4 linked regions of the Homo sapiens genome follow. The protein of the gene in region 2 interacts with the protein of the main gene of each other region in a biochemical or structural test. Each region holds a gene or a part of one and is shown on either strand. Other genes may lie near its edges. The genes, in order: CTSB, PARP1, MACROH2A1 and NMNAT1.

The links.
Region 1: of the proteins of PARP1 (region 2) and CTSB, one has a biochemical effect on the other in vitro, tested with the Homo sapiens proteins (one study listed by BioGRID).
Region 3: the proteins of PARP1 (region 2) and MACROH2A1 form a complex in vitro, tested with the Homo sapiens proteins (2 studies listed by BioGRID).
Region 4: the proteins of PARP1 (region 2) and NMNAT1 form a complex in vitro, tested with the Homo sapiens proteins (one study listed by IntAct).

What each region holds. Positions count from the first base shown.
Region 1 is NC_000008.11:11,855,128-11,865,087, reverse strand, and holds part of CTSB (cathepsin B isoform 1 preproprotein), read left to right. Parts: intron 1-604; exon of another isoform or gene 605-712; intron 713-2,609; exon of another isoform or gene 2,610-2,743; intron 2,744-3,608; exon of another isoform or gene 3,609-3,727; intron 3,728-7,147; exon of another isoform or gene 7,148-7,230; intron 7,231-9,960. UniProt on the Homo sapiens protein: Thiol protease which is believed to participate in intracellular degradation and turnover of proteins. Cleaves matrix extracellular phosphoglycoprotein MEPE. Involved in the solubilization of cross-linked TG/thyroglobulin in the thyroid follicle lumen.
Region 2 is NC_000001.11:226,358,785-226,364,647, reverse strand, and holds the end of PARP1 (poly [ADP-ribose] polymerase 1), read left to right. Parts: intron 1-577; coding exon 578-705; intron 706-1,487; coding exon 1,488-1,549; intron 1,550-2,564; coding exon 2,565-2,679; intron 2,680-3,106; coding exon 3,107-3,188; 3' UTR 3,189-3,957; downstream 3,958-5,863. UniProt on the Homo sapiens protein: Poly-ADP-ribosyltransferase that mediates poly-ADP-ribosylation of proteins and plays a key role in DNA repair.
Region 3 is NC_000005.10:135,367,051-135,377,010, reverse strand, and holds part of MACROH2A1 (core histone macro-H2A.1), read left to right. Parts: intron 1-6,868; coding exon 6,869-6,975; intron 6,976-7,407; coding exon 7,408-7,605; intron 7,606-9,960. UniProt on the Homo sapiens protein: Variant histone H2A which replaces conventional H2A in a subset of nucleosomes where it represses transcription. Nucleosomes wrap and compact DNA into chromatin, limiting DNA accessibility to the cellular machineries which require DNA as a template.
Region 4 is NC_000001.11:9,981,398-9,985,998, reverse strand, and holds the end of NMNAT1 (nicotinamide/nicotinic acid mononucleotide adenylyltransferase 1), read right to left. Parts: exon of another isoform or gene 4,233-4,601; intron 3,699-4,232; coding exon 3,298-3,698; 3' UTR 864-3,297; coding exon of another isoform or gene 856-863; 3' UTR 501-855; downstream 1-500.

The sequences.
Region 1 (9,960 bases), on a different chromosome or scaffold from region 2:
CAGGCAGCAGTCTCTACGTCTGGTCCCAGGCTGCCTGAGAAAGAGCATGTGGGAGGCAAACCTTGCGCCCTGGCATGGTTGTTAATGTTTATATTTACCCTAGCTTGTGTGGGGTAGGAGGTTTAGGGATCAAATTCCACTCTGTGTTTAGACATTTTTTTCTTTCTTTTTTTTTTTGAGACAGTTTCACTCTGTCACCCAGGCTGGAATGCCGTGGCACAATCTCAGCTCACTGCAACCTCACCTCCCAGGTTCAAGCAATGTTCCTGCCTCAGCCTCCGGAGTAGCTGGGATTAGAGGCATGCACCACCATGCCTGGCTAATTTTTGTATTTTTAGTAGAGACCTCAAATGATCTGCCCGCCTCGCCTCCCAAAGTGTTGGGATTACAGGTGTGAGTCACTGTGCCCAGCCATGTGTTTAGACTTTTAACTAATCTCTTTTTTAGTTTCAAGCCTTATCGTCCGCCTCTGTAGACCACTCCTGTGCCTGTTTCCTGATCCTTCCAAGGGCCATTGTATTCCCTGTCTGCTGCCCCTCTTTTGGATTCTTCTGCACATTTTTTTGTTCATGCATTCATTCATTTATTGTTTGATTAATGACAGGGTCTTGCTTTGTCTCCCAGGCTGGTGTGCAGTGGTGCGACCACGGCTCACGGCAGCCTCAGCCACCCAGATGTAAGCGATCTGGTTCCCACCTCAGCCTCCCGAGTAGTAAGTAGCTGGGACCACAGGCGGTGCCCAGGTTTTTTTTTTTTTTTTTTTTTTTTTCGTTGGTAGAGACAGGGTCTCACTGTTGCCAGGACTGCTCTGAAACTCCTGGTTTCAAGTGATCCCCTTGCCTCCTCCCACTTAGGCCTTCCAAATGCTGGGATTACAAGGCATGAGTCACCTCCAGGCCTTTTTGTACTTTTAAAACTCTGCATCAGTGTATAAACAATGTTATTAAAGTTTATATGACTTCAGTTACACTACATGGATCCTTTTTCACTCACGGTTGTGAGATTTATTTCTGTTGCTACATCCAGTTCTAGTCCATTTGTGTTAAGTGCCCAGTGTGTTTATCTACTGAGGGACAGTTATGTTATTTCGTGTTCACTATTATCCCATGCTACAATAAATATCCTGTGTCTCCCAGATACTTAGAAGAGTTTCTGCAGGGCACATGTGGGAGAGTTTGTTTCTGGGTCATGAGGTGTGTTCATCTTCCATCTTGCTAGATGCTGGCAAAGGGTTCTCCAGTGTGGTTGCATCAATTTACTCGCCCAGCAGTGTGCAGAGTTCCTGTTCCTCACATTTACCAACACTAGATAGTACCAGACTTTGATTTTTGCCAATCTGATGGGTTTGAAGTGGTACCCCTGTTTTAATTTCATGACCAGAAATTCAAATTTAATCTTTGCTGTAGGACAACAGTAACCCACTTATGCCTAGTGTTCCATTATTAGAACGCTAAGCATGTGGGAGTTTTTACATCATACTGCTCAAGGTCATCGCCAAGGTCTGATGTTTTTACTCGTGCAAAAATTTAAAAAATTGCAACCTCTGGCATAAATGGGTTGAGTGACACTTTTCCTGTTTTTATTGTTGGTCAGTGATGGCATATTTGCTGGGTTTTTTTGTTTTTTTTTTGAAACGGAGTCTCACTGTGTCGCCAGGCTGGAGTGCAGTGGTGTAATCTCGGCTCACTGTAACCTCCGCCTCCCGGGTTCAAGTGATTCTCCTGCCTCAGCCCCCTGAGTAGCTGGGATTACAGGCGTGTGCCACCACGCCCAGCTAATTTTTGTATTTTTAGTAGAGACGGGATGTCACTATGTTTGTCGGGCTGGTGTTGAACTCCTGAGCTCATGATCTGCCTGTCTTGGCTTCCCTAAGTGCTGAGATTACAGGCCTGAGCCACCGCTAGCCTATTTATTTTTTATTTTAAATTTTAATTTTCTATATAGAGACGAGGTCACTATCCTGCCCAGGCTGGTCTTAATCTCCTGGGTTCAGTCAATCTTCCCACCTTGGCCTCCCGAAGTGTCAGAATTATAGATGTGAGCCACTGTGCTCAGCCCAGAACTGATGTTTTCTAAATGCTGGGTGCTGAGAAGGATGTGTGGCTGGCAGTCTTGACTGTGTTATCTGTCTTTACCAGGCCAGTAACTTCTTTGGTCTGGTCATCAAGATAATCTAGCATCACCAGCAAGCATGCATGGAGAAGGATGGGCCCAATGTGGCCAAGATGGTAACGGGACCAGTAGAGAGCCCTGTAGAAGACATCTAGATATTCTGCCCTAAGAGCCCGGAGGGCCGGGCTGTCTCATGACCCTCTGACGTGCTGACCTGGACTCTGGCAGAATGTGCACACACACAGTCACACAGCTTCCTGGCTTGCGCAAGTCCCAGGAGGGCGGTGCCAGCCACAGGCTTTTCCCATTCGAGGGTTGGAAGCGTATCATCAAACCACATCAGAGTGCTGGGGGCCACCTGCCACCCATTCCCAACCCACTCAGCCTTCCTGGTGTTTGGGACATGCTTTGCTTTGGCAGTCAAGACAGCAGAACAAATCAACTTTTAAGGCCTTGTCACTGATAGTACAATTTCCATTATTTTTCATCCAAATTAGGATACTTCTGAAAATAGAAATGATGACTCTGGGATGCAAACGTTGGCTGTCCTATGTATAAGGAGATGGCTTTTCACGCTCCCAGTGACTGAGGAAGTTTCTCCCAGATGGCGCTGCTCTGAGCCTGGTGCAGGGTAGGCACTTTCAAAAGAGTGTCTCCTTGTATCTTCCATCAGCCTTGCGAGATGGGTATCTGTTCCCAGGGCCCCAAGGGAGGAAAACAGGACCTAGCTGGATCCAAGAGCTAGGCCTTTCTTTTTTTTTTTTTTTTTGAGATGGAGTCTGACTCTGTCGCCCAGGCTGGAGTGCAGTGGCGTGATCTCGGCTCACTGCAAACTCCGCCTCCCGGGTTCACGCCATTCTCCTGCCTCAGCCTCCCGAGTAGCTGGGACTACAGGCGCCTGCCACCATGCCTGGCTATTTTTTTGTATTTTTAGTAGAAACGGGGTTTCACCGTGTTATCCAGGATGGTCTCGATCTCCTGACCTCGTGATTCGCCCACCTCAGCCTCCCAAAGTACTGGGATTACAGGCGTGAGCCAGCATGCCCGGCCCAGAGCTAGGCCTTTCTGTGGCTGGCCTTCGCGTCAGCCTCAACTACCCTGGTGTAATCTCGCCTGCGGTTGAATTAGGGAACCGCCGTGTTCTGCAAGCTGGAGAGGCAGAACACTAATGAGCAGAACACTAATCTCATTGCAATCTCAAAGGATCTCTAAAAGCTTTTATAAAGCAGGCCCAAGGTCCTTTGGTATCCGATGCAGACGTGGTGAATGCATTGGCTCTGTCAGCATCTGAGCAAGTCAGTAACAGAAATGGGGAGTAAAAGCTTTCAGAACTTTCCAGAATATTGACTAAATTGTCTTGTTTACAACCAACAACGACAACAAAAAATAACTGCTGAGGGCCTTCGTAGTGTCTGCTGTTTCAAGTGTACAGTAGTCATTTTGTCTGCAGGATGTGGGGTTGCTGTGGCTGACCTTGTACAATATTCCACTCATAGGTGTCTTCAGGCCTATGGAGAGCAGCTTGCGTGGGCTGGGCCTGCAGTACCTGGTTTGCATAGATGATTGGCAGGTGGGCAGCACGGGGAAGGACCTGTGAGTGGCCAACCTGGTTCAGGTGAGGGAGGTGGAGTGGGGCTTCTCTGCTTCCCCTGGTTCCCTGGAAGCCTCCAAGGCTGGTGAGCATCACTGCTGCCTCTGCACACCTGTGTGCTGGGTGGGTTTTCTGACAGGTTTTCAGTTGCTTCGGGGCTACAGCTGCAGGGAGCCTGCTCCATGGGACAGATGGGCCTCTGGTGCCCGTTCATCAGGGGACTGATGAGACCGAGGCCTGAGAGCCCTTTGGATTTTGTTTTTGTCCTTAATTTAATCATAAGCCAAGAATCTACTAAACACAGTTCCATTAGGGGCAAAGACGTAACACATCAGAGGCCACAGCAAGGCTGTGATTCATACTCAAAAAGGAAAGGTCTCTGGGTCACAACAGAGCATAGTTGAGGTCAGCACACTCCCACCCAGTGCAGGGCTGCTCCAGCATTGAGGTGTGTCTGGCAGGTTGAAGTAGGGGAAGATGAAACTCGCCGAAGTCTTGTTTTGTGGTTGCACTTAAGTGGTCAAAACTTCAGGAGCAACTGCCGTTATTAGCGGTGAGTGCCAAGACTAGTTTTTATAGAAGAGAAAGAAACAAAGTACTCTGGGAAGGTCTTACTGAGCCTTCACAGTCTCCCCACCTTTCCACTGTTCCCGTGCTCTTAGCCGCTCTGCTGGCCTATAAGGCACAGTCTTCATTTGTGGCTTCTGGCAAAATGTAAGCACTTGACTTTTGTTTTTGTTTTGTTTTGTTTTGTTTTTTTGAGACGGAGTTTCCCTCTTGTTGCCCAAGGTGGAGTGCAATGGTGCGATCTCAGCCCACTGCAGCCTCCACCTCCTGGGTTCAAGCAATTGTCCTGCTTCAGCCTCCCGAGTAGTTGGGATTATAGGTGCACAACCACCACGCCTGGCTAATTTTTTGTATTTTTAGTAGAAATGGGATTTCACCATGTTAGCCAGGCTGGTCTCGAACTCCTGACCTCAGGTGATCCACCTCCTTGGCCTCCCAAAGTGCTGGGATTACAGGTGTGTGCCACTGTGCCCGGCCAACTTTCAATTCTTTAGAGCTGACTATGAGAGGAGCCAGCAGTATAGCCACAGCACCAACGAATGAGGAAGAGCAAAATACTGCATGACAGCTTTGCTAAGAATTCTTTCACTTTTTTTGTCTATCAGCCAGGAGCTAGCAACTTGGCTTATTTGGAAATTTTAAGTGTACATATCCTGTCTCCTTAAATCCTTTACAGATTTAAAGTGCAGTCTACCTGAGGGCTCTGTGACCATGTAAGAAAGCTTTTTCTTTCTTTTTTTTTCTCTGAGACAGAGTGTTGCTCTGTCGCCCAGGCTGGAGTGCAGTGGTGTGATCTTGGCTCACTGCAACCTCTGCCTCCTGGGTTCAAGCAATTTTCCTGCCTCAGCTTCCTGAGTAGCTGGGACTACAGGCAGCACCACCATGCCCGGCTGAGTTTTGTATTTTTAGTAGAGACAGGGTTTCACCATGTTGGCCAGGCTGGTCTTGAACTCCTGACCTCGTGATCCGCCTGCCTCAGCCTCCCAAAGTGCTGGGATTACATGCGTGAGCCATTGTGTCCGGCCTTTTTTTTTTTTTTTTTTTTTTTTTGAGACAGAGTCTCGCTCTGTTGCCCAGGCTGGAGTGCAGTGGTGTGACCTCAGCTTACTGCAACCTCCGCTTCCTGGATTCAAGTGATTCTCCTGCCTCAGCCTCCCAAGTAGGTGGGATTACAGGCACCCACCACCGTGCCTGGCTAATTTTTGTATTTTTAGTAGAGACAGGAGTTTCACCTTGTTTAGTAGAGACAGGCTGGTCTCGAACTCCTGACCTCAGGTGATCCGCCTGCCTTGACCTCCCAAAGCGCTGGGATTACAGGCATGAGCCACTGTGCCTGGCCAGAAAGCCTTCTTTATTGAGCTTGGTGGCAGCCCAAAACTGATTCTTTAAGGGTGTCAGGACTTAACACCTCCTGTGACTTAGCCGCACCTCCTCTCCTTTGACTTTCATTCCACCTCCTTCCAGGATCGCAAGGTCCCTATTTGTCCTGGAAACGGCTTCAAGGTAGTCTAGGGTGCCGTTTGCCGGGGGAGGAAGGTGCTCTGGTTGATAGAGTCGCCTGGCCGCACACTCTTTTTGGCACATAACAACGTTCTACAGAGCCGGGGTGGAGCGTGCTTTCTCATAAGTGCTCTGCAGGTTTGGAGAGAGAGGATATGAGGAGCACCCTTTTCTGTTTTTTTTAACCCAAAGATTAGCTTGGAAAAGGGGCAGAGGGGTGCACTGGAACTCAGGTCTGCCTAAGCAGCACAGCAGACCAAGGTCTAGAGATGACATCTGCTCGCAGCTGTTCTTCCACCAGCCCGCATCCTGGAAAGGGGTCTTGTGGCACACAAGAGTTCACATCCTTCCCTCGTGAAATAAGGACTTTGTGTTCATCATCTCTTGTAAGAAGCAGAGCAGAAAGCACAGAATTAAGAAATAAAAGGGAAGTGGGTGCCTATATAAAGGGAAGTGAAAATGGGTTGCTGTCCCATGCAAAGACCCTGGAAAGCTGTTAACAGCTCAGCTTGTCACTTTCACCATCTGCATTTGTCCAGAGTGATTGAGATTTGCGTTGTTGTGGAGAGAAAGGCGCCTGTTGCACAATGGAGTGAGATTGCCACTGCTGTCAGGACCTCTGTGTTTGGCTTGACACTTTTTGAGTTCTCAGCAGTCTCGGGACCCTCAAGAGTGGAAGCATTTTTGGATGTTAAATGCTGGGGTTAATTGAAGTTAAGAGCTTGTTTTACTGGGCATGGTGGCTCACACCTATAATCCCGACACTTTGGGAGGCCAAGGCGGGCAGATCACTTGAGTCCAGGAGTTTGAGACCAGCCTGGGCAACATAGCAAAACCCCATCTCTACAAAAAATACAAAGCTGGGCGTAGTGGTGTATGCCTGTAGTCCCAGCTCCTTAGGAGGCTGAGGGGAGCAGATCTCTTGAGCCCAGGAGGCAGAGTTTGCAGTGAGCCATGATCGTGCCACTGCACTCCAGCCTGGGCAACAGAGTGAGATCCTGTCTTAAAACAAACAAAAAAAACAAACTTGTTTTCATTTAGACTCTTCCTGGCGTTGGGGACCTATTGGAATAGGTTTAGTGTGAACTGAGAGCTAGAAGTGTTAGAGGAGAGAGGGAGGGAACAGAGCCCGCTGGAGCGAGTGCCCTTCCTACCTTATCACTGCATGCCAGGCATGTGCCGGCGCTTTGGTCCTCCTCATTTCATTCTTGACTGCCACCTGAGACACGATGGTTACTAGCTCCATTTTATAGGTGGTGAAACTGAGGCTTGGGGAAGGTCAGACCCCAAGGGTGCCATTTAGTCAGTGGCAGAGCCAGATCCAAATGCAGGTCTCCTGACTCCAAGTGCAGGGCTCATTTTATCGTCCGGTTGCAGCACGCTGGCGGCCCCTTGAGCCCCAACCTGGATACCATAGGGGAGGAGCAGAGAAGCCAGGAACACCACAGCCCTGGGCCAAGGTGCGGGGCTGAAAGAACTTCCCAGCGCTCAGCCTGGGACTAGTGGAATGGGCTGGGCCCTGGGGCTGGCAGCGGTGGCCCCGGGGAGCCTGGGAATGAGTAGGGAGCACAGGGAGGTGTGGGAGGGCCTGGGAACCATGAAAAGGAGGGCGGGTGCAGGGAAGTCGCCTGCTAGTGAAGTGGCGAGGGGGCCCTGTGGGACTCCAGGGAATGGCCACGGCAGGTTGTCCTCCAGGAGTTGAGAGCCACTGGACATGGCAGCTGCCTGTGTTCTCAGCCACCACAGTAACCAAAGAAATCTTGGTTTTAAAATTCAAGTTGCCATGGAAACGCTCCCATCCTCGACTTGGCTTATTATTTAAAATAACATCTCTACAGCACAAAGCCCCCGGGTACATCCAAGGACACTGCTGTCTGCCCACGAGACATGCTAACCTCACAGTGTGGAGGCTGTGTGGGTCACTGACATGCATGGCCACGTGAGACGCTGCCTACCCACGAGTCACGGAAAAGGGGAAGATTATTAAGAAAGTCACTAGGGGCCAGGTCCAGTGGCTCATGCCTGTAATCCTAGCACTTTGGGAAGCTGAGGCAGTTAGATCCCTTGAAGCCAGGAGTTCAAGACCAGCCTGGCCAACATAACGAAACACGGACTATACTACAAAAATTAGCCAAACGTGGTAGCACAGGCCTGTAATCCCAGCTACTCAGGAGGCTGAGGCACAAGAATCACTTGAACCTGGGAGGTAGAGGTTTCAGTGAGCCAAGATTGCGCCACTGTACTCCAGCATGTGCCACAGAGCGAGACTCCCATCTCAAAGTCACTAGGGAGGAAGCCTCATTGGTGGGAAGGAAGACCAAATTGGAAATGCTCTGAGGAATCATTAAAACAAATGTCCTTTTATCAGTTTGGTGGCTCAGGGCCTTTAGTAATACTGCCAACTATTTTTCCTAGAAGAAACAAAACTGAAATAATAGGAACATACTCACTTTTTTTTTTTTCTTAAAAGTAAGGGTATGTTGTGAAAAAAAGTCTCCCCACCGTAGTGACCGACTGCCGTGCATCTTCCTTGGCATTTTGCATGTAGTGGCAGGAGTGTTCCTACATGTGTAGATTGCTGAGAGGGTCAGATGCTTATGGTCCTCAGTCACCCACAGCTTGCTTTTTCCCCACTTAACATTGGGACTTGGGGCATTTTTACTCTGTTAATACAATAGAATTCACTTCAACTAGTTGGTTTTTTACTTTTATTTTATTATTATTATTTTTAGATGAAGTCTCAATCTGTCGTCCAGGCTGGAGTGCAGCCTCTGCCTCCTGGGTTCAAGTGATTCTACTGCCTCAGCCTCCCAAGTAGCTGGGATTACAGGCATGCGCCACCACGCCTGGCTAATTTTTTGTATTTAGTAGATACAGGGTTTCACCACCTTAGTCAGGCTGGTCTCTAACTCCTGACCTCAGGTGATCCAACCGCCTCGGCTACAGGCATGCGCCACCGTGCCCCACCAACTAATTGCTTTTTTAATGGTTGCTTCATATTCTATTTAACCACTTACCGTAATTTAACAGTTACTCTGTTATTGGATACTTGATTCATTTCCAGGACATGCAGATTTAGAAACTGGTGGGCGTTGCTGGTTGATGTCTCGGTGGTTGTGCCCACCCACCCCAGGCACTCATTATCATGCCTTCCGTTTCCCCACTTCCTAAGCCCTGCAAGAAGTGCCAAACTGTCCAGCCCTTGCCAATCTGATACATGCTGAATACCTCCTTGATTTTATCTGCACCTCCCTGAGGTTGAACTTATTTTACTTTATTTTATTTTATTTTTGAGGCAGAGTCTCACTGTCACCCAGGCAGGAATGCAGTGGTGAAATCTTGGCTCACTGCAATCTCCACCTCCTGGGTTCAAGTGAGTTGAAGCAATTCTCCTGTCTCAGCCTCCCAAGTAGCTGCGATTACAGGCACCTGCCACCACACCTGGGTAATTTTTGTATTTTTAGTGGAGACGGGGTTTCACCATGTTGGCCAGGCTGGTCTCAAACTCCTGACCTCAGGCGATCCACCTGCCTCAGCCTCCCAAAGTGCTGAGATTACAAGCTTGAGCCACCATGCCGGTTGAACTTATTTTTATCTGTGTTGGCCATTTGTAGTTTTTCTATTATGCTGGTTCCATTTTTCTGACTTTGAAGAGCCTTTTGTGGAAACGAAGCCTAAAGTATATGTGAGTACTGCTTTGTTTCGTCAGTTTTTGTTTTAAAGAGACTTTTCAGTGTAATGCAAGCATTTTCCCTTGAAGGCTGTGTTTCCTGTCAATCCTAAGCTTTCCTCCAGCATTACCTTTTTAAAAAACTTTATTTTCTATATTGATGGGGTCTCACAATGTTGTCCAGGCTGGTGTTGAACACCTGGCCTCAAGTGATCCACTTGCCTTGGCCTCCCAAAGTACTGGGATTATAGGCATCAGCCACCGCACCCAGCCTGTTTTTCAAAGGGCATTGATTTTTTTCATAAAACTTTTTAAATTAAGATCTGTGGGCCTGGTGCGGTGCCTCACGCCTGTCATCGCAGCACTTTGGGAGGCTGAGTCAGGTGGATCACGAGGTCAGGCGTTCGAGACCAGCCTGGCCAAAATGGTGAAACCCTGTCTTTACTAAAAATATGAAAATTAGCTGGGCATGATGGCACATGCCTGTAATCCCGCTGCTCGGGAAGCTGAGGTAGGAGAA
Region 2 (5,863 bases):
GAATGAGTAAGGCTTTACCTAGACACGAGGGATCGTGATGCCACCTGCTGGATTCTAGATGGGTCCACCTGGACAGGACCTTCTAAGCCTCTTGTTTCACAGTTGTAGAATGAGGAGGAGAGAAGTTTAAATGATTCTCTCTGGGGCTGTGCAGTAGTGTATAACGGGCAAATGGCCTACCCTTTGTGAACCTCGTGTTTCATTTACAAAAGGGAATAAAAATACCAGCCTGCATTCCTTGGGTGTTGACAGGCGCTAGTTTAAGTAACACTGATGAGCTCATTCCGTCCTCATGGCAGCTCCATGAGACTGTGTTCCCCATTTGAGAAAAGAGGCAAGTAGAGTCCAGAGAGGTTACGTAGCTTCTTGCAGCTCCTTGGCACCTGGCAGAGCTAGGATCTGACAGCCTGGCTTGTGAGCTAAAACTTTGGTATTTCCTCACCATGGGCATTGTGAGAATTAGAAGTGATGGATTGCAGCACTTAGCTGGGTGGCTTGCTCAAGTTGGCACTCAGTGAACAGCTGCTCCTAATTTCCCATCAGAAGATTCTCAGCTCTCCCTTTTCCGACCTTCCAGACAGGCTACATGTTTGGTAAAGGGATCTATTTCGCTGACATGGTCTCCAAGAGTGCCAACTACTGCCATACGTCTCAGGGAGACCCAATAGGCTTAATCCTGTTGGGAGAAGTTGCCCTTGGAAACATGTGAGTAAACCTGGCTCTGGGACTGATGGCATTTCATGGGGACAGGTGGAATGGGCTATAGGCAGAACTCCCCTTGGCTGGGAGAGTAGAAATTCCCCACTGCAGTTACTGGACGCACCAATTAGGATTCTTTTCTTATAAGTAGCAGAATCCAATTCAAGTTAAGGGAACAAGGGAGATACAAGGATACTTCAGGAAATGCAAGGGCAGGAACGCAGCCAGGCCTCCAGAGCTGGCAGTGTCTTCTCTCCATGGACTGGGAAGCAGAGAGATTGAGTTGCACAAAGGATGATCCCCCAGGCCGCCTCCTCCACTCACCAGTGTTTCAGTTTTCTTAGACCAACCCAAATGGAACTGGAATTTTAATTCCACTTCCAGATTCTCCATAGAGAAAGATCTGATTAGTCCAGCTTGATTTGGACATCGACCCTAGTCCTGTGAACTGTAACCAAAAGCACAAGGTCATGTAAAAGGCCAGGGGTCTGGGGACTGTGGAATGTGGACGGAAACCTAGAGCTGCTGACCACCACTCCAAATAGGGCCTTGCCTTGAAAATGGCCCCATAGCAGTGATCGCTGGGCACAAACTATGTTCAGCCGCAACTGCAGTTTCAGGTTCTGGAACAGTTCCAGAAACTCAGGAGGGAGCCTGAGCAGTTTAGATGGTCTGGGTTTTGTGGACTTTTATCTCATCTCTGTATCTGATCTTATTCTCCTAATCAAACTGTTGGTTTCGAGAGCCCAGTGTGAAGGCCTCTTCTGAGACTGTCCTCTTTTGAATAGGTATGAACTGAAGCACGCTTCACATATCAGCAAGTTACCCAAGGGCAAGCACAGTGTCAAAGGTAAAGTGTTTCCAAAGCTGTTGCTACAGCCCGAGGCACCCTGGACAGCACAGAAGCCGGGGGCTTGCTGTCCTGAGAAGGCTGCCTTGTGGCTGGCTGTCAAACAGCTGGAGATTCATTTTATCTTTTCGAGGGGTGTGTGTGCGTTGTTGTTGTTGTTTGGGGGGTGGTGGTGGTGGTTAATATGCTGCAACTGACCATGATTGGAGGTTCATTTTATTTATTTTTGTAAAAAAAAAAAAAAAATAGGCAAGCTCTATAGCAGGAGGTTCATTTTTAAAAACAGTTCACTCTCTGTGGCTGCAGCTGGTATCACAGATGCCACAGGAGAATCTTGGTGCAGGCACCAGTAACCAGATGCACGGGTTTCGGCTTTAACCTAACTTGTAGCTACAGCAGTGAGGGACCTCTCGTGACATAGTAGTGCCTGGAGCATCTTGGATTGCTAGAATTTGCAGCATATGATTTAGAACCTTCCACTGCCTGGTTGAAGTGGCCGCTTTGAAATTCTATTGAGCCGAAATGTGATCCTGTAGGGAGGGTACTGCCACTGTTCTCATTAAACTCAGTGAAGGTTGATGCCCTGGGAACTTTGGTTTATTGCCTTAGTTTTATATCTGAAGAAAGATAGAGCATGTCTTTAAAATGAGCACATGAGGCTGGGTGTGGTGGATCACCTGAGGTCAGGAGTTCGAGACCATCCTGGCCAACATGGTGAAACCCTGTCTCTACTAAAATACAGAAAATTAGCTGGGTGTGGTGGCGCGCACCTGTAATCCCAGCTACTCAGGAGGCTGAGGCACGAGAATTGCTTGAATCCGGGAGGCGGAGGTTGCACTGAGCTGAAGTCACACCATTGCACTCCGGCCTGGGCGACAGTGAGACTCCATCTCAAAAAGGAAAAAAAAAAAAAAGAAAGACCACATGGACCCAACATCAAATAGAGCTCATCTCCCTGGAAGCTTTGCCACATCTGTACTCACAGTTCATGTCACTTGTGACTTCTGTTTTTCAGGTTTGGGCAAAACTACCCCTGATCCTTCAGCTAACATTAGTCTGGATGGTGTAGACGTTCCTCTTGGGACCGGGATTTCATCTGGTGTGAATGACACCTCTCTACTATATAACGAGTATCCTTTCTTGAGTATGCTGTGTGAGCACAAAGGGATGTTCTCGAGCTACAGAGTCACTTATGTGCTGTCAGATTACCTGGGGCAGACAAGGATTAGAGGCTGTCCTGTAGTGTGTCCCATGGTGACTGTTTCCCTTCTGTGGTCCCTCCCTGTGCATAGCCTGGCTTACAGGGTATGAGCCTTCCCCCAGTTTCCAGAGGATGATCTCCTCTCCTCAGTCTGCCTGAAGAAGACTTAGAGTAACTTTCAGGCTGGCATTGAGCATCCTGCCAGCCCCGGGGAGATGAGGCAACCCAGCCCCATGAAGAGGCCTTAGAGTGACTTTCAGGCTGGCACTGAGCGTCCTGCCAGCCTGGGGGAGATGAGGCACATGTACATACCCTCTGTTGTATGGCTGTTGGCTCCTTAACAAGCTTCCCCTCAGGTACATTGTCTATGATATTGCTCAGGTAAATCTGAAGTATCTGCTGAAACTGAAATTCAATTTTAAGACCTCCCTGTGGTAATTGGGAGAGGTAGCCGAGTCACACCCGGTGGCTCTGGTATGAATTCACCCGAAGCGCTTCTGCACCAACTCACCTGGCCGCTAAGTTGCTGATGGGTAGTACCTGTACTAAACCACCTCAGAAAGGATTTTACAGAAACGTGTTAAAGGTTTTCTCTAACTTCTCAAGTCCCTTGTTTTGTGTTGTGTCTGTGGGGAGGGGTTGTTTTGGGGTTGTTTTTGTTTTTTCTTGCCAGGTAGATAAAACTGACATAGAGAAAAGGCTGGAGAGAGATTCTGTTGCATAGACTAGTCCTATGGAAAAAACCAAGCTTCGTTAGAATGTCTGCCTTACTGGTTTCCCCAGGGAAGGAAAAATACACTTCCACCCTTTTTTCTAAGTGTTCGTCTTTAGTTTTGATTTTGGAAAGATGTTAAGCATTTATTTTTAGTTAAAAATAAAAACTAATTTCATACTATTTAGATTTTCTTTTTTATCTTGCACTTATTGTCCCCTTTTTAGTTTTTTTTGTTTGCCTCTTGTGGTGAGGGGTGTGGGAAGACCAAAGGAAGGAACGCTAACAATTTCTCATACTTAGAAACAAAAAGAGCTTTCCTTCTCCAGGAATACTGAACATGGGAGCTCTTGAAATATGTAGTATTAAAAGTTGCATTTGAAATTCTTGACTTTCTTATGGGCACTTTTGTCTTCCAAATTAAAACTCTACCACAAATATACTTACCCAAGGGCTAATAGTAATACTCGATTAAAAATGCAGATGCCTTCTCTATTTGTGTATTGCGTGTCTGGTCTCATTCTGACTACAGATATGGTTAATCTTCACAGTGCAAGGTCCCAAGAGACTTTGGGGGGATTGTTTCTACCCTTAATCTGTGAAACCCCAGAACGTGCCAGGCAGCAAATAGCATTGCTTAATGGGAATGCCCCACCTAAGGGTGGGCCAAGCACCAGGCATAGGAGACACTTTTTTTTTTTTTCGGCTTATCAGATGCATTGTGGTGATGAACTCATCCTGCTCTCTGGAGGACTGCCTTTCATACACCACATTGCCTTGTACAACTGCTCTGCATTTGAGAATCATACTTAAATGTTTACGTTTCAATTGCCTGAAAGCAGGGCCAGTGTCTTATGTCACCTCTGACCTTTTACGGAAGGGGACAAGTGAGGTAGTAGCTCACACCTGTAATCCCAGTGCTTTGGGAGGCCGAGGTGGGAGGATCATTTGAGGCCAGGAGTTCAAGACCAGCACCTTTGACCTGGAGACCCTCTCTCCTGATCATCCAGCAATCCAGGCTGTTCGGCTCTTGGGCTCCTGAGTATTCTGCACTCTTTACCTTTTTTTTTAATCAGCACAGAGAAAGGCAATTACCCTCACAGTACCTGATGAAATAAGTATTTTTAGGTTGGAGTGATTACTTAGTGAGTTCCCTGTAATCAAAACTGGTTTCTTTTTTTAAGGAAGATTCACATTTCTCAATCTATTTTCCTTTCAAAAGAGAGAAATTAGCACTTTATGTTTTAGTATACACATTCTGCTTTTCTCCCTTCACTTTAAAAAAATTCAAGTCCTGGCCGGATGCAGTGGCTAACACCTGTAATCCCAACATTTTGGGAGGCCAAGGCGGGCGGTTCACGAGGTCAGGAGATGGAGACCATCTTCGCCAACTGGTAAAATTTCATCTCTACTAAAAATACAAAAATTAGCTAGACATGGTGGCGCTCACCTGGAATCCCAGCTACTCAGGAGGCTGAGGCAGGAGAGTCGCTTGAACCCGGGAGTCAGAGGTTGCAGTGAGCTGAGATCATGTGTGGCAACAGAGCAAGACTCCGGTCTCAAAAAAAAAATTCAAGTCCTATCTCAGGGTAGCAACTAAAATGTGAGAATTTCGTTTAAAAATTAAAGCCAACCGTGAACCTGGGGTTGGAGCCTGCAGTGAGCCGAGATCGCGCCACTGCACTCCAGCCTGGGCAACACAGCGAGACTCCGTCTCAAAAAAAAAAAAAAAAATTAAAGCCAACCTTGCATAGAAACTCGGGGTGCTCCATGAGAGAAGAGAGAGGTATAGCCCTCTGCCCCTCCTGGTGAGCTGCCCTCCTCCCGCCTTTGTGCCTGGAAGTGCCCTTGGCCAACAGTAGTTGCCCAAGGCAGTACTGGGCTCACATGTCAGAGCACACTGTTGCACACAGTGGTGCATGCATACATCTATAAAAGATGCGCTGCGTACACAGTAGTGTTTTAGCCAATGTGCTAGCCAATGAATTCTGCATCAGTGGTTATCTCTTGCTACACAAGAGGTGAAGAACCATTCCTTCAAGCGTCCCAGAGCTCTAAGGCGAAGCTGCTATAGAATGATTTGCCTAGAACTTTGCCTTAGGGCAAACCTCAAGTACTGCTTTTAGGAATGAAATCTAATGGTGGCCTTGTCCCTGGTGCGGGCATAGTATGTACTCAGTGTTAATTGTTTACACCAAAAGCCTGGAAGCTGCATTGTCTTTTGGCCTTCAGAAACCTTGTATCTTAACTGTTAAGATCTGAACATTGGGAATCATTCACCTCTGACCTGTTGGGCTGGTTTTATTCCGCTCTATAAAGTACACCCAGGTGCTTTAGGAGTTCGCATTTCTCAAAGTGGTGTCATTGCCTTTCCCTTAAATTCTGTTTTGACTCCTCAGAG
Region 3 (9,960 bases), on a different chromosome or scaffold from region 2:
AACTGTTAAGCATAACAGCAAAGAGTAAACTATTGGCAGAGGAAACACCAGGTTTTCTGTTGCTTTTTTCCTCCTTTTGGCACAAATCCATCCATCGAAATCATCCAGTTATAGATAGAGGAAATCGAGGCAAAGGAAGTGCAGTTTTCTCCTGGTAATCAAGCTTGTCGCACTTTTTTAACAGTGCAGTTGTAGCCTCAACAGTAGTAGCTTGAATTTACTGAGTATACTAAGCATTTTACTTGGTAACTCATTAATCTCATAAGCCTAGAGGTAACCTCAGGTATCACTCCCCCTGTACAGAATAGGAAACTGAGGCTTAGATGCACTTGGCCACATCTTACAGATAATTACAGGAGCTGGGATCCAAACCCCGACGGTCTGTCAGCAGACCCCGGGCTCTCACCACAGTGCCATTTGCGATTGCTGCCCTCCCCTGCAGACAGAGCGGGCAGCTGAAACAGCACCAGAGGTGAGGAAGGCAGAGGAAAACTTCCTGACAAGGAAGATATTCGGGCACTGAGTTGGGTTGGTGGGTTAGATTAAGGTAATGTTTGCTAAGAATCATAGCTCCCCTGTGTTATTATGTATAATGTAAACTTATTTATTTTTTACTTTGAAATAGGGCTGAAAGTTCCAGTCAGTGGAACTTACTTTACAGATTCCCAAATTAAGCTGCATTTCCATCTTATTGGGAGACTTTGTGGGAAGGCAGAAGACTGGACCAAATGCTGTCTCTGAGACCCCTGGCTCCTCCTGGACTTTTCGGAGGAGTCTGCAGTGGGCTTAACAACAGTAGAGGAGTTTGTGTCAGGCTTGGAACCATCTTTGGAATACTACTTTCAATCACTGCTGTAGGTTTTATTTTCTCTATGGAATTCTGGTTCCTTTGAGGCCCCTGGGACAAGCAGATGGAGAGCTTTGCTGTGGCCCAGAGCTCCCAGCTGATGGCTGGGCAAGCTTCAGACCCTGCCACTCAACCTCCTGAAAAGGTGGGATGGGGGCAATGGATTCTGGGATGCGGCTGCAAACACTCAGAGCCACCAAGGGAATTGGAGGAGGTTGTGGTGTGGTCAGAATGCAGGAAGCTCTTAGCAGTCACCTTCCGATTGGGGTTGATTGGGTTAAGGCCTTCTGGGATGGTGTAAAACAGTTCTGAACTCAAAGGACTGCTGATGGAAGGATGATGAATCGAAAGAAATACAATAAACAGATTCCTTGTCATGTTGTTGGCCTTGTAGCAAACATGTTTTCTCCTTGGGATTACGTGAACATTTGCTTTTCTTTGATTTCTGGTTGTTATTTTCAGTATTTCTTTTGTTAAATGAGCTCTGTTTTACAGAGCTTCAGACAGCTCCGTTAAAGCCCCTGACTCTTTCCTATTGCAAGGGTTGTGTTTAGAGTTTGGCTCAGCCTCAACACATCACCTGTTAGCTGTTAGGAGTCTAATTCTGCAAACCATGACTTCATCTTGCTGAAGGAAGATAGACAAAATGCTTCAATACAACAGATATGTTTTAGTTCAAGACATTTGGAAAAAAGAAAAAGGACCCTAAGCCTTTCGTCTCTGGGTGGACTTGCAAAGTAGACCTGTCAAAGGTATTCATGTTCAGACGGCTGGTCTGTAGTCAAAAAGGCTGCCAAACCATGCTGTTATCCAAGGATGTGGGAATTTTGTCAAGCGGCCTTAAAACAGTCATGTTCAATGAAGCTGGGGAACGTTTGGCCCAGGATGTCCCTGCAGGGCTTGCAGCTCTGAGGAGAGGGAATATGGTTGCATCATCTAGGCCACTACAGATGATGGTGCCAGCCACTCACTAGTTGCCAGAGACTGGCCCTGGCCAGGAGTGAGAACCAGAGGCTTATGTGTTTTGAAAAACAAAAATCTTAGAAGAGTTAATGAGCTGGCCAGTTTGCTCACCATTCAACTTGTTCCCTTTGCACCATTTATAATTGGGAACTTTACCACACTTACAGTCCTCTTCAGAGCAGACCCTAAGCGCCTTGGGCCCCAAATCAGTCTAGTATTGGTCATTGGTAACAAAACTTAGACTGTCACCGACTGAGAATACTTGGCTTGATGGGGTGGAGAACCTGGTAAGGGGTTCTGTTTCTTCTCCTAATTGTTCTTTTCCGTTTCTTCCTGTGGTTTCTTATGGATTCCATTTATTTTGGTTACAGCCTCCAGGCTGTGGCTCCTGAAAATTTCCTTCAAGAGAGAATCCAAGGGCTGAGCTCTGGAAACTCTGGAGAAAAGGATTTTTGTGTCCATAGATCTGGTGTTTTCCTGGTTATCTTTCTCAGAATCGCTTTTCTTTTAGACCAGCCACAGACAAAACAGAGACTCACAAAACCTTCCAAAACATGAAATGAATTGAGTGCAAGAACCCACCCTCCCCCTTGTAGGAAGGCATCGGCTCCATTCACTTTGAGGCAGAGGCTTAAGTTGGCTCTGTTCTAGCCTAGGAGAAAGCCCTCCTTGCTGGTGGGAATGTGAGGGCCATCCCAGTGTGCATGGGGGGCAGGCAGGCATTGCTGTACAGCCCTGAGCCTGGGGCCTCCATGACTTTGCCCTCCATATTATTGCAAAGCAGAGGATCACTTACAGGGAAGAAAACTACATCAGGACATCTCCTTTGGTGACGTGTGCCCTGTCCCAATTCCTCAGCAGTCAGTCACCCTCTCCGCTCCCCCCTGAATAGGAACATGCCCTGGAGAGCAGATGGGAACCGTTCCATCTTGTTGAGTTGCTGGCATTTTGCACCTCTGCTGTCTCTGCAGCAGGCAACTCTTTCTTAGCCAGGAAAGCCCTTTACGATGGCTTTTTCTAAACCTGGACTAAGGATGAGAGGGTGAGTATTACTGATGGTTGGCAGGGGATGAGTGTGTATTCTGGGTTACTGCTTTTGTTAAGTCGGGCACCCTCCATTTTCCCTGGCCATGGTGAAATGCCCCGGCCCTCTGCTGCTGCAGCACAGGAGAGGGGTGGGACACTGAATATACTTCTCATAAAAGGTGTGTTTCTGAGGTGCTCTGTCTTGTGTGTCCCTTAACGATGGGGTTACTATGGTAACTATCCATCTGAAAAAAATGCAAGAGTAAACAGAAGATAAAGCTCTTGCTTAACTAGCTGGAAGGTGGATCTGTGCCCCTCTTTGTTATCCCTACTTGACACAGCTCCCTCCTCCCTACCCACAGGGCTGAGGGCCCACCCTATGGTGGTAGGAGTATGGAGAGGCAGTAATTTTGGCTTGTGCAGATAAAAGATGAGCTGGGGTTTTGCAAAAAGGAAGAGTCTTGGATTCTGGGGCTCCTTGGTAAAGAAGGCAACAGAATGACATCCCTGCCCAGCTCTTTCTAAGGAGCTGAGATGCTCCTCCTTCTGCCCCTCCTTATCCACCTTGCTACTCACTGTCACTTACAGGTTGGTCCAGTGTGGCATCCCTGATTCCCAGTTGAATAGCAAAACATAAGCATGGTCCTTCAAGTTTCTCTAATGGAGAAACTGAGGCTACTGAACTTTTCAGTCACAAAGTAAGAGCATAAAGGGGTAAAGCTTGCGAAGCCAGGGATAATGTCCTCTAGCTCCTGGAGAATCCATTTTCAGGTTTCTCAACCCGATGTGCTTACTTCTGGGCTACTCTGTTGCTTTCTGTTCTTTACATACTACCTGCCCTCACCCAAGTCAGGGGCCCAACCACACTCTTCAGGTCTTTTTATCCATCATTCTCATTTTTCCTGCACAAAAAAAAAGTGAAGGCAGCACTGCAGAAAATATAGACCACATCCCTCCCCTCCTCCCCGACCACCAACGGCCACTGAGCCTTCTCTCAGGGAGGGCCTTCCTCCAACGTTTTGGGCAGGAAGAGGAAACAGGCCACCTCCACTTTCCTGAGAAACTGTACCTTCAAACGATTTTCTTGCCAAAGGGTTGGGCTTAGGACTTAGCAAAACAGGTCACCACTGTGGGCATTCTCCTTCTGCCTCCCTTCCTCTCTGTTAATGAGGGGGCAGATAAAGCATTCTTGGCACATTATGGTCAGAAGATTGTAATCCATCAGCCTCCTCCTGTATATTCTGGCTCTGCAGATACCGATGGCCCAAAACTTCGTTGTGGCCTCCAAAAGGGGAAGGTTGTGGAAGGGAGGGGAAGCCAGCAAAGTGGGCTACAGCTCAGTGGTGCTTGATATGCCTCTCAGGCCTTCCTGCCGTGAGGATTCTGCCCAGCACCCATCGTGGCTGACTCTCCTTCATGTTCCATTGCTCCCAGGCTCTGTGTTCTTGTTGGGCTTAGACTCTTGGTTTGGCATCCTCTTGGGCCGTGGGCAGGACAGTGGCATTACGGATGTGCTCTCCCGCCCATGAACACAGGAGAATGAAGGCCAAGCTGGGCTGGCCAGGCAGGCGCTTCTGCATTCACAGTACCCAGGGCCCAAGGTCACATAGGCATCACAGGCACCTTTTTGGCTTGGCCAAGGTGGGCCCATCACTGCTGGGCATTGGGACACTACCACGATCAATGATAGGGAAGCTTCAGTGAAAATGCTGGGTGGCCATCTCCCTCCTCCACTGGTAAACTAAACTGTGCTGACACTGGTACAGGGAAGGGAATAGCGTTGTGGAGACTGATGGGTGAAAGTGGGAAATGTGAGCCCCTCCACCAGATTCCATGTAAGCACTGGCTATCTTGCCTTCCACCCTGCCTTAGTTTTGTGGCTCTCACATGTATAAAGCCCAGGTAAGGGACCCTGTGGCATTCTTTATCACTCTCTGTATCACTGGCATGTGTAGCCCTGCAGGCCTGGGAACACTGAGAAGACAGGGGCCTCCTGGTGCCTTGGGTCCCTCCTGCCAAGCACAGAGTTGTGTGTCATCAGTATGGTGATTACTGAGCAAAGGAATTCCTGCCTTGGATTTAGGGGGAAACCTGCTATTTCAAGTGTGTCTGATCTCCTCCCGCCCCTGCCCCCAAAGCTAATATGAGAGTTTCCTTGAGTAGCCAAGCAATTTTTCAGCTTTACACACATACAGCAGGTTATTTGCATTGGGTGGAGCTGTTAGTACCTCTTAAAAATGCATGCCCTGTGTCATACCGTAAATTTTTAACACACGATTTTTATGCAGCTAGAATTTTCTTCCTAGTTATTTCATAATGATTCTGAGTGCTGGTGTTGCTGGAGAAATCTAGTGTTTACAACATAACTAAATATTAGAAATTCTTTAGTACTGGGAGGAGGTCAGATTTGAGTTGGGCCCAGAAGGGTAGCCTAGAATGACATCCCAGTGTGGGCAGAATTGCAGAAGTGGAGAATATAAGATCCATTCTGGGTCTATCCGTATGCCTCACTAAGAAAACAAGGAGACAGTGATGAGGTTGACAGGTTACCAAGAGAACTGTAATGCCAAGGAGAAAACCAGGTTTTGCCAAAGGGTACTTCCTAGTTCCCACCATCTTTGGTGCTGTGGAAAACCTGTCTTGTCTTGTGAGACTGTGCCCAGATGGCAGGTAAATCAGCTCTTAACTTAGTACTAACTATGGGTTATGCTCATAGCCCTTCTAGTTTTTATTTTCTTGCATACATTTTATTTTGAAAAATTTCAAACATACAGAATGTCAAGAATACACTGATTTCATCACCTTACATATTTGTTTCCTTGTGTTAAGAACTTTTAAAATCTATTATTTTAGCAATTTTTAAATATACATGATTGTTAACTATAGTTACTATTCTGCACAATAGATCATTAAAACTTCTTCTAACTGAAACTTTATGTCCTTTGACCAACATTCGCCCCGACCCCACCCCCAGTCCCTGATTCCACATAGAAATGAATTCATGCTATATTTGTCCTTCTGTGCCTGGCTTATTTCACTTAGCATAATGTCCTCCAGGTTTATCCATGTTGTTGCAAATGACAGAATTTCCTTGAAAGAGGAATGTTCTTATAATCATATACCTAGATTTAACAACTGTTAACATTTTGCCATATTTGCTTTATTCCTTAGAGCTTTTTCAGAATGGAGGGCAAGTTGTAGGCATCAAGATGCTTCACCCCTAAATACATCAGCATGTATCTCCTAAGAACAAGGATGCTCCCTACAGAATGGCAATACCATTATTACACTTAAGAAAATAATCCCGTGTGTCTGATACCCAGTCCACATTCAGAGCTCTTCAGTTGTCTCCAAAATGACTTTCCTAGCTTTTATTAAAAGAATCAGAATTTCATCAAGGAGTGACACATTATATTTGGCTTTTACATCTTTTTCACCTTTTGAATCTACAACAACCTCCCCCCACACACACACACTTTAAAAAATGTATTTGTGATGTTGACTTTGTAAAGAATCCAGTCACATCCTTCCAGTTTTGCATCCAGATGTGCAGGCATTCAGCATTGATGTAATCAACAAAGATTTAACAGGCCTCCTCAATAGCAAGCCATCCTGTCCTTGAAACTCTAAGCAGGCATGGTATACTCTCAGGGACCACACTGAGGACTTTGGGTTTGGCCCTGGTGACATCTGCAGTGCTAACTGCAAGCACCCTTTCTGGGAAATGAGAGCTGGAACTGGGTTCAGATCTCAGCCCTCCCACTCACTCACTCAGTGATCTTCAGCTGGTCCCTTCTCCCTCAGCTTCAGTTCCTTCATCTCCCAAACAAGGGCATTGGACCTGGGGCTTCCTAGGTCCCACTCAGCTTTGCCATTCAGCACCTCTGTGACTCTGCCCACAGCTTTTCACCTCAGGGTAGCTGCTTCCTGAAGCAGCTGCCTCTGCCCATTCCTGGCACTGTGAATGTGGGGACCGGGGCGGGGACACATGGTCCTCTAACATGACCATACACTCATCTCTGCTCCCCACAGCGGAGATTCTGGAGCTGGCTGGCAATGCAGCGAGAGACAACAAGAAGGGACGGGTCACACCCCGGCACATCCTGCTGGCTGTGGCCAATGATGAAGAGCTGAATCAGGTATGGGCCTCTCCCATCTCCCACTGATGTTTGAGCAGGTGGTCATACTGCCCAAGAAACATAGCTGAGAGGCTTTGGTGTTGGCTGGTTATGAAAGGTGTGGACTGCCTTTTGGATTAATTAGCAGCTTCTCTGCCTCCCATGGCAGTTTTTCCCCAAGGCCTTATTGGGAGTGTTGGGGGAAGCAGGATAATACAAGGTATTTGGCTCTCCCGAAAGGAGAGAGATGATCTAAATTCCATTTGAGTGAGGGACTCTGGGGACTGGATCCCTGAGCAGTGAGCTTGAGTCCTGGCAGCATCCTCATGGAGGATGCCATGGAGGAAGGAGCTGCACCAACCCAAAGCAAGACTGTCCTGGGCAGGGCTGGCTTCTTGAAGGTTAGAAGCAGGGTATCTGGCTCACTATCTGCTATTCTGGTTTTCCTGAAAGCTGCTAAAAGGAGTCACCATAGCCAGTGGGGGTGTGTTACCCAACATCCACCCCGAGTTGCTAGCGAAGAAGCGGGGATCCAAAGGAAAGTTGGAAGCCATCATCACACCACCCCCAGCCAAAAAGGCCAAGTCTCCATCCCAGAAGAAGCCTGTATCTAAAAAAGCAGGAGGCAAGAAAGGGGCCCGGAAATCCAAGGTATGTGATTTGGCCAGAATGTATGAAGTGGGATAGGATGGGGTACGGATAAACAGGGTTACCAGGGCACCCCCCTCATTCCCCCTGTGGGCTCATCCCACTGATGGGAGAATAAAGGAGGAACATGTAGGAGCTGATTACTCTCCAGAGGGGCTAGTCCAACACAAGTAGCCAGAGTCAGGAGGCCCTCCCAGAGTCTGGACCCAGTTGAAGGACAGAACCTCTGTAGGCAAGGGGGATGGGTGGTGGGCTTTCAGGGATAGTGTCAAGCTGGAAGGACTCCCAAGCTGGCCCTTCCAGGGAGATGCACACACCTGTGGGAAGGGGGCTTCCCTGTGTTAGGGGACAGCCACTGTCTAGTCCTGTGGCCAGCTACCTGCATGCCCTGATGCTCAGTTGCAGAACTCTCATGTTGCCATGGCTGCATGTCTTCCATCAGGGCGCTCTAGACAGTTCACTCCAGAATGGTTGCCTCTGTCAAGGAGGAAAATGGATGTATTACTCAGGTGCTTCTTCCTGGGCCTAACTTGGATTGGCTGGGTCCTAGGTGCTGGAAACCCTCTCATTAGTGTTATCTAATGTCATCTTGGGTGGAGAAGGCCAGCAGACTCCAGGTCATGATCCTCAGTGTGGAGGAGCACCCTCCGGAGGTCCAGGCCTGTGATTGCTGTGCTCACCTGTCTGAGCATGAGCTGGAGACTACAAGGCAACTGGGATACATTTTCTTTGTTCCTTCTTTGCCCAGTCCTACTTGTCAGCAGTTGTCACAGCCTCCAGAGCCAACAAACAATGGACAGTGCCACCAAATCTTGGTCTCTAAGAAAATGGAATCTTGAGGCTGCCCTGCTCTGAGGTACCCCTTAAGGAGTCCTCCTTCTGGCCTCCAGCCAGATCAGGAGGAAATTACCCATGGCAGAAGGTGACCTCTGTATTTTGCAAGACCCTCAATAAGAAGTCCTGGAAATGCATCTGTGGAATCTAATGATGCAGTGTCAGGAAGTTCTTCCTACATGAGCCCAAATCCTCTCACCTGAGTGAGACAGTGAGGACACCTTCCCAGGACAGGCTCAAGGAGCTGTGACCAGGTGAACAGAGCTCCTCCTGTCCTGTCAGCATGTCCTCTCCTTTGAGCCTGCCTGTGCCTCAGGCAGACTGGCTTTCACCCGCATGCAGGGACATCTTCTGTGAACCCCAACCTTCTTGCATCCACACTGTTTGTGGCTTTTAGTTGAGGTGAAAGAGGCTGTATTTCTTTGCATGCACAAAATCTAAATTCCTCTTGCCAACATGCCACCCACCCTTAGGCCCAGAATCACTCCCAGCTCTTTGAGAGAGAAACCCAATATTGAGGAGTGTCCTATAAGTTATTTCCAGACACTTGCATTCCATCTAGCTCACAAGTCCTGGAAGAGGCTTGAGGCCAGGCAGGGATTTCACAGAATGCGCCACTGCTCATTCCTGCTAACTATAGAATTAGCAGATTGGAAAGTTTCTTTTTCCCTTTCAACATATGCATTTGGGAGGAGGGCGGGGAAGGGAAGGCAGGAGGAAAGTGCTTGTGCAACCCTTTCTAAATGTTAAAAAGGCAACGAAGATACTGAATCTATCATCTTTTGATTATGAGCCCCAGAGACCTGGCTGCCCACAGAGCAGGGCCCTTGGTGCTGAGGACCAGCAGGGGCAGGACCACGTCCTCAGCTTAGCCTTTGCCCTGGCTGTGTCCTGAGCCATCACCCTCCTTCATGCGTTCACTGTTGATACTTGAGTGGGTCTCTCAGATGCCAGTGTCTGCTGGCAAACCTGGGCTGAATCTTGTTCCTGTTACTCTAGTCTTCCCCTAGTAGTTTTTGTTCTATGACTTTCTGAACTTTCCAATTTAGTAAACACTAGGAATTCATCTTACTTTTTGGACTTGAAGTATTTGGAGTGGGGGTGTCTTTAGCTCCTAGTAGCTATATTTGGAACTTAGTGTTTCTAATAACCATATGCCAATAATCACTCGACCACTCAAATTTCCCTTGATTACAAAAGCAGGAAGCCTGTTATGGTGGTCTGTTTTTCTTCCACACAATAAAACACATTGTCTACTTACTGTACCAGTATTTGGCTAACATTAAACCCTGGGGGAAGCTGAAATTGGAACCGTGAACAGCTAATTTTCAAAACATTTGTTTAATGTAAATTGTGGTGTCAGCTCCCAGAAACAGCAGAAAAGCCTGCATCTCTAGGTTTAAGTGGAATGTTCTGAAAATAACCTTTCCAGGGACATGCAGAGAAAGCCTTAGTAACATGCTAAAGCACTTGTAGTGAGAGTTGGTATTTTTCAGGTGTCAACACTTGAATTCCAAATCATAA
Region 4 (4,601 bases), about 220 Mb from region 2:
AGAGAATAATGGGACCAGGCACCACTATGACAGGTCAAAAACCCTATCTGGGCAGAGCGTGATGGCTCACACCTGTAATTCCAGCACTTTGGGAGGCCAAGGTGGGCGGATCATTTGAGGCCAGCTTTGCCATCACGGTGAAACCCTGTCTCTACTGAATATACAAAAATTAGCCAGGCGTGGTAACACACGCCTGTAATCCCAGCTCCTTGGGAGGCTGAAGCAGGAGAATTGCTTGAACCCAGGAGGCAGAGGTTGCAGTGAGCCGAGACTGTGCCACTGCACTCCAGCCTGGGTGACACAGCAAAACTGTCTCAGAAGCAAACACACACACACATACACACACACACAAACACAAAAGTTAATTATGGCCCATATCACCTTCTCCCTCGGATTCCACTGTTCTAGTTCCAAGGAATTGCTAACACTGGGCAAGTTCAGCCTAGTCCTTCCGTGAGGACTGAATACGTCGGACTCATCTCCATCAGACTACCACAAACTGTTGTTGAAAGCTTTATTTGTCCTCACTTAGGGTAAATGAAAAATTTCAAGATTTGGCTACAACTTCATTCTTTGAAAAGTAATATTTTACAGAAAGAGAGATTAGGGGTACTGGCTCTGAAGACAAAGCTTAGATTCAAGCTCAGCTCACCATTTATACCAGTCCCCTGATTTTGCCGTTTCCTTATGATATAAGGCACTCAGGAGCACAAGCCAAGCACACAGTAAGTGTTCAGGAAGTGCTGACATTATGAAGTTCAAACAGCACCACTGGTAAACGAAGTTCAGATTTCAGAGGTGGAGACTGTGTACGCAGCCTCACAGCTGAGTGGATGCCGTGGTGAAATGTTTAGATCATAGGCCTTTGAGAAAAATTATGAGAATGTTAGAGGAATGGGCCTCCGTTGGCACCCAGAAATAAACGTTAAAGGAGGCTATTTCATCATATAACAACTTCTGGACTTCTAGAAAAGTGAAAAGAGAGGCTTGGGTAAGGAAGATGAAAGCCCTCCCACCACCCTGCATGCTGACCTAGGGCATCCTTCCTTCTACTCTGTTGTTAGATCCTCATGATGGCCAAAAAAAAGCATTCTTTAACCTAAACCATCCCCATGGCTCAATCTCTACCCCTTCATCACCAAGGAAAAGCCACTTCTCTTATCTGAAAGGCCTGCTGTTCACATAAGCAAACACTACCACAAAGGCTCTCCATCATCCGAATGAAGATGCCAATCAAGGACTTTTACTGCAGGTTTGTTTGCCACTTTCAAATTACACAATGTAAGGGGTAAAGGGTACAACACATAAAACCCCCAGCATCAAACAAACAGGCCAAACAAAACACCAGCATCACACATTTCCTCTAAATTGACAGTACAAAAGCAAATTATGGAAATGATGCAGGAGGGAATAAACAATGGCATATTTTCTTCACGTCAGTCATTAATATTTATTCCCCTGTGAAATTCATTGTTCTAACTTCCATTATTCAAAGTGGAAGTTCTGTCCTTGAGGACACCCAAAATTATGCTATTACGTGGCAGCATCAACAGCATCCTCGGCGTTGGGAGAAAAAGCCAAGCTTGTTCTCTGTACAAAGCTTGTTCTTTGTACAAAGTTGTTGCTCCATAAATAGTGCAACAATAGGATCAGGCTGGGTGCAGTGGCTCATGCCTGTAATCCCAGCACTTTGGAAGGCCGAGGTGGGCAGATCACCTGAGGTCAGGAGTTCAAGACCAGCCTGTCTAACATGGCGAAACCCCATCTCTACTAAAAATACAAAATTAGCCGGACATGGTAGTGGGTGCCTGTAATCCCAGCTACTCAGCAGGCTGAGGCAGGAGAATTGCTTGAACCCGGGAGGCGGAGGTTGCAGTGAGCGGAGATCGCACCACTGCACTCCAGCCTGGGAGACAGAGTGAGACTCCATCTCAAAAACAAAAAACAATAGGATCATTGTACCCTTACCAGGGCTCCTGCAAGGGTCCCCACATGCCTTGTCCAGTGAGGTCCTGAGGTCAGTAGTCACAGCTGAGCAGGGCACAGGCACTTCTGAGTAGGAAGGCACGATAGTATGAGAGAAGTTTCCAGCATTGGAAACTTTCTGCAGTTTACGTGACACTTCAGATGAACTAGGTGTAGTTTCCCAGAGGAAGTCCAAATTCAGTTCTGATAGCTTCATCTTGCTCTATCATTACTTTTCAGGACTCCTTCAACTCTTAAACTCCAAGAAGCTAAGGAGGAGAAAATGACCCTCATCTGTATGATTTGAGGCTCCAGCCTTTCACTAACTTGGCAGATGGATCCTGAAACCTGCTAGCTGTCAGGCTTTTTTTTTTTTTTGAGATGGAGTCTCGCTCTGTCACCCAGGCTGGAGTGCAATGGCACGATCTTGGCTTACTGCAACCTCTGCCTCCCAGGTTCAAGCGATTCTCCTGCCTCAGCCTCCCAAGTAGCTGGGACTACAGGAGCCCACCACCATGCTCAGCTAATTTTTTGTATTCTTAGTAGAGATGGGGTTTCACCATATTGGCCAGGCTGGTCTTGAACTCTTGACCTCACGTGATCCACCCACTTAGGCCTCCCAAAGTGCTGGGATTACAGGTGTGAGCCACCACACCCGGTCTTTTTTTTTTTTCTCTTTGAGATGGAGTTTTGCTTTTTTGCCCAGGCTGGAGTGCAGTGGCACAACCTTGGCTCACTGGAACCTGTGCCTCCCGGGTTCAAGCGATTCTCCTGCCTCAGCCTCCCAAGTAGCTGGGATTATAGTTATGCGGCACCATGCCTGGCTAATTTTTTGTATTTTTAGTAGAGACTCCATCTCAAAAACAAATAAACAAACAAAAACTTATTTTAGCTTACCATTGATTTTTACTAAATTTTTTTTTTTTTTTGAGACAGAGTCTTGCTCTGTCGCCAGGCTGGAGTGCAATGGTGCAATCTTGGCTCACTGCAACCTCCACCACCTGGGGTCAAGTGATTCTCCTGCCTCAGCCTCCCAAGTAGCTGGGACTACAGGCACGTGCCACCACACACAGCTAATTTTTGTATTTTTAGTAGAGATGGGGTTTCACCATATTGGCCAGGATGGTCTCGATCTCTTGACCCCGTGATCCACCTGCCTCAGCCTCCCAAAGTGCTGGGATTACAGGCGTGAGCCACTGTGCCCAGACGATTTTTACTAAACTTTTAAGCTTTAGTTTAGGCAACAGATCACAACTTCTTTCCCCAGTTATTAACTCCCAGATTGTTTCAGATCCCCAAATGGGAAGTCTGAAATATCATGCTGTAGAATTCCTATGTCTTAGCTTCTGCAGTGTTTCTCTGCAAAGGGGCCAGGATGACCCCAGCATTCCTGTCTTCACTCTCAGAGCTGTACAAATTATGCTTTTCAATGTATTCTTGGACAAGATCTGGTACCAAGTAGCGAATGCTCTGGCCCCTTCTGAGGGCTCTCCGGATTTTTGTGGATGAGATGTCATTAGCGATCCATTCATTCACCACGTGAATGTTGCTCCGGTGTTTCCACAGCACATCCGATTCATAGATAAACTTCTGAGCATCATTTCCAGCCCGAGTAACACATATGAGCCCATAGTTGGCCACGATTTGGGTGATGTCTTCACTCTTCCACAAATTGGGAACAGCAAAGGACTCCAATAAATCTGCCCCACACAGCAGCTTGACCTTTGGCACAGCTGGGAAGAATAAAACAGAGCTTTGGGGTATGCTTTTTCTTCCCCTCTACCTCCTCCAAGTGGAAAGGGGTTTACTTTTCTAATAACCCACTGTATCAAAATGAAGATACGTATGTGCTTTTCAAGGATGAGGGCTTAGGCCGAGTGCGGTGGCTCTAGCCTGTAATCCCAGCACTCTGGGAGGCCGAGGCGGGTAGATCACTTGAGGTCAGGAGTTTGAGACCAGCCTGACCAACATGGTGAAATACCGTTTCTACTAAAAATACAAAATTAGCCGGGTGTGGTGGCGCACGCCTGTAACCCCAGATACTTGAGAGGCTGAGGCAGGAGAATCACTTGAACTCGGGAGGCAGAGGTTGCAGTAAGCCGAGATTGTGCCATCGCACTCCAGCCTGGGCAACAAGAGCAAAACTCTGTCTCAAAAAAAAAAAAAGAATGACAGTTCACAGTTTTTATGAGCTTTTATTTTATGAGAATCAGATTCCCAAAAGAGACCCAGGACACCTCAAAGATTAGAGACCACTGCAGGAGAAATAAGCTCCAAGTGCCTTTTATTCTCCTTCACTTCATGCAACTAACAAGGGGCATTTTCCAGACACCCACAAGTATGCAATATAAAATGAAAATAAAGGCCAGGCATAGTGGCTGACACCTGTAATCCTAACACTTTGGGAGGCCAAGGCAGGAGGACTGCTTGGGGCCAGGAGTTCAAGACCAACCTGGCCAAAATAGTGAGACCCCATCTCTATAAAACAAAAAAAATAAGGCCCAGGCGCTGTGGCTCACGCCTGTAATCCCAGCACTTTGGGAGGCCGAGGTGGGCGGATCATGAGGTCAGGAGATCAAGACCATCCTGGCTAACATGGTGCAACCCCGTCTCTACTAAAAATACAAACAAATTAG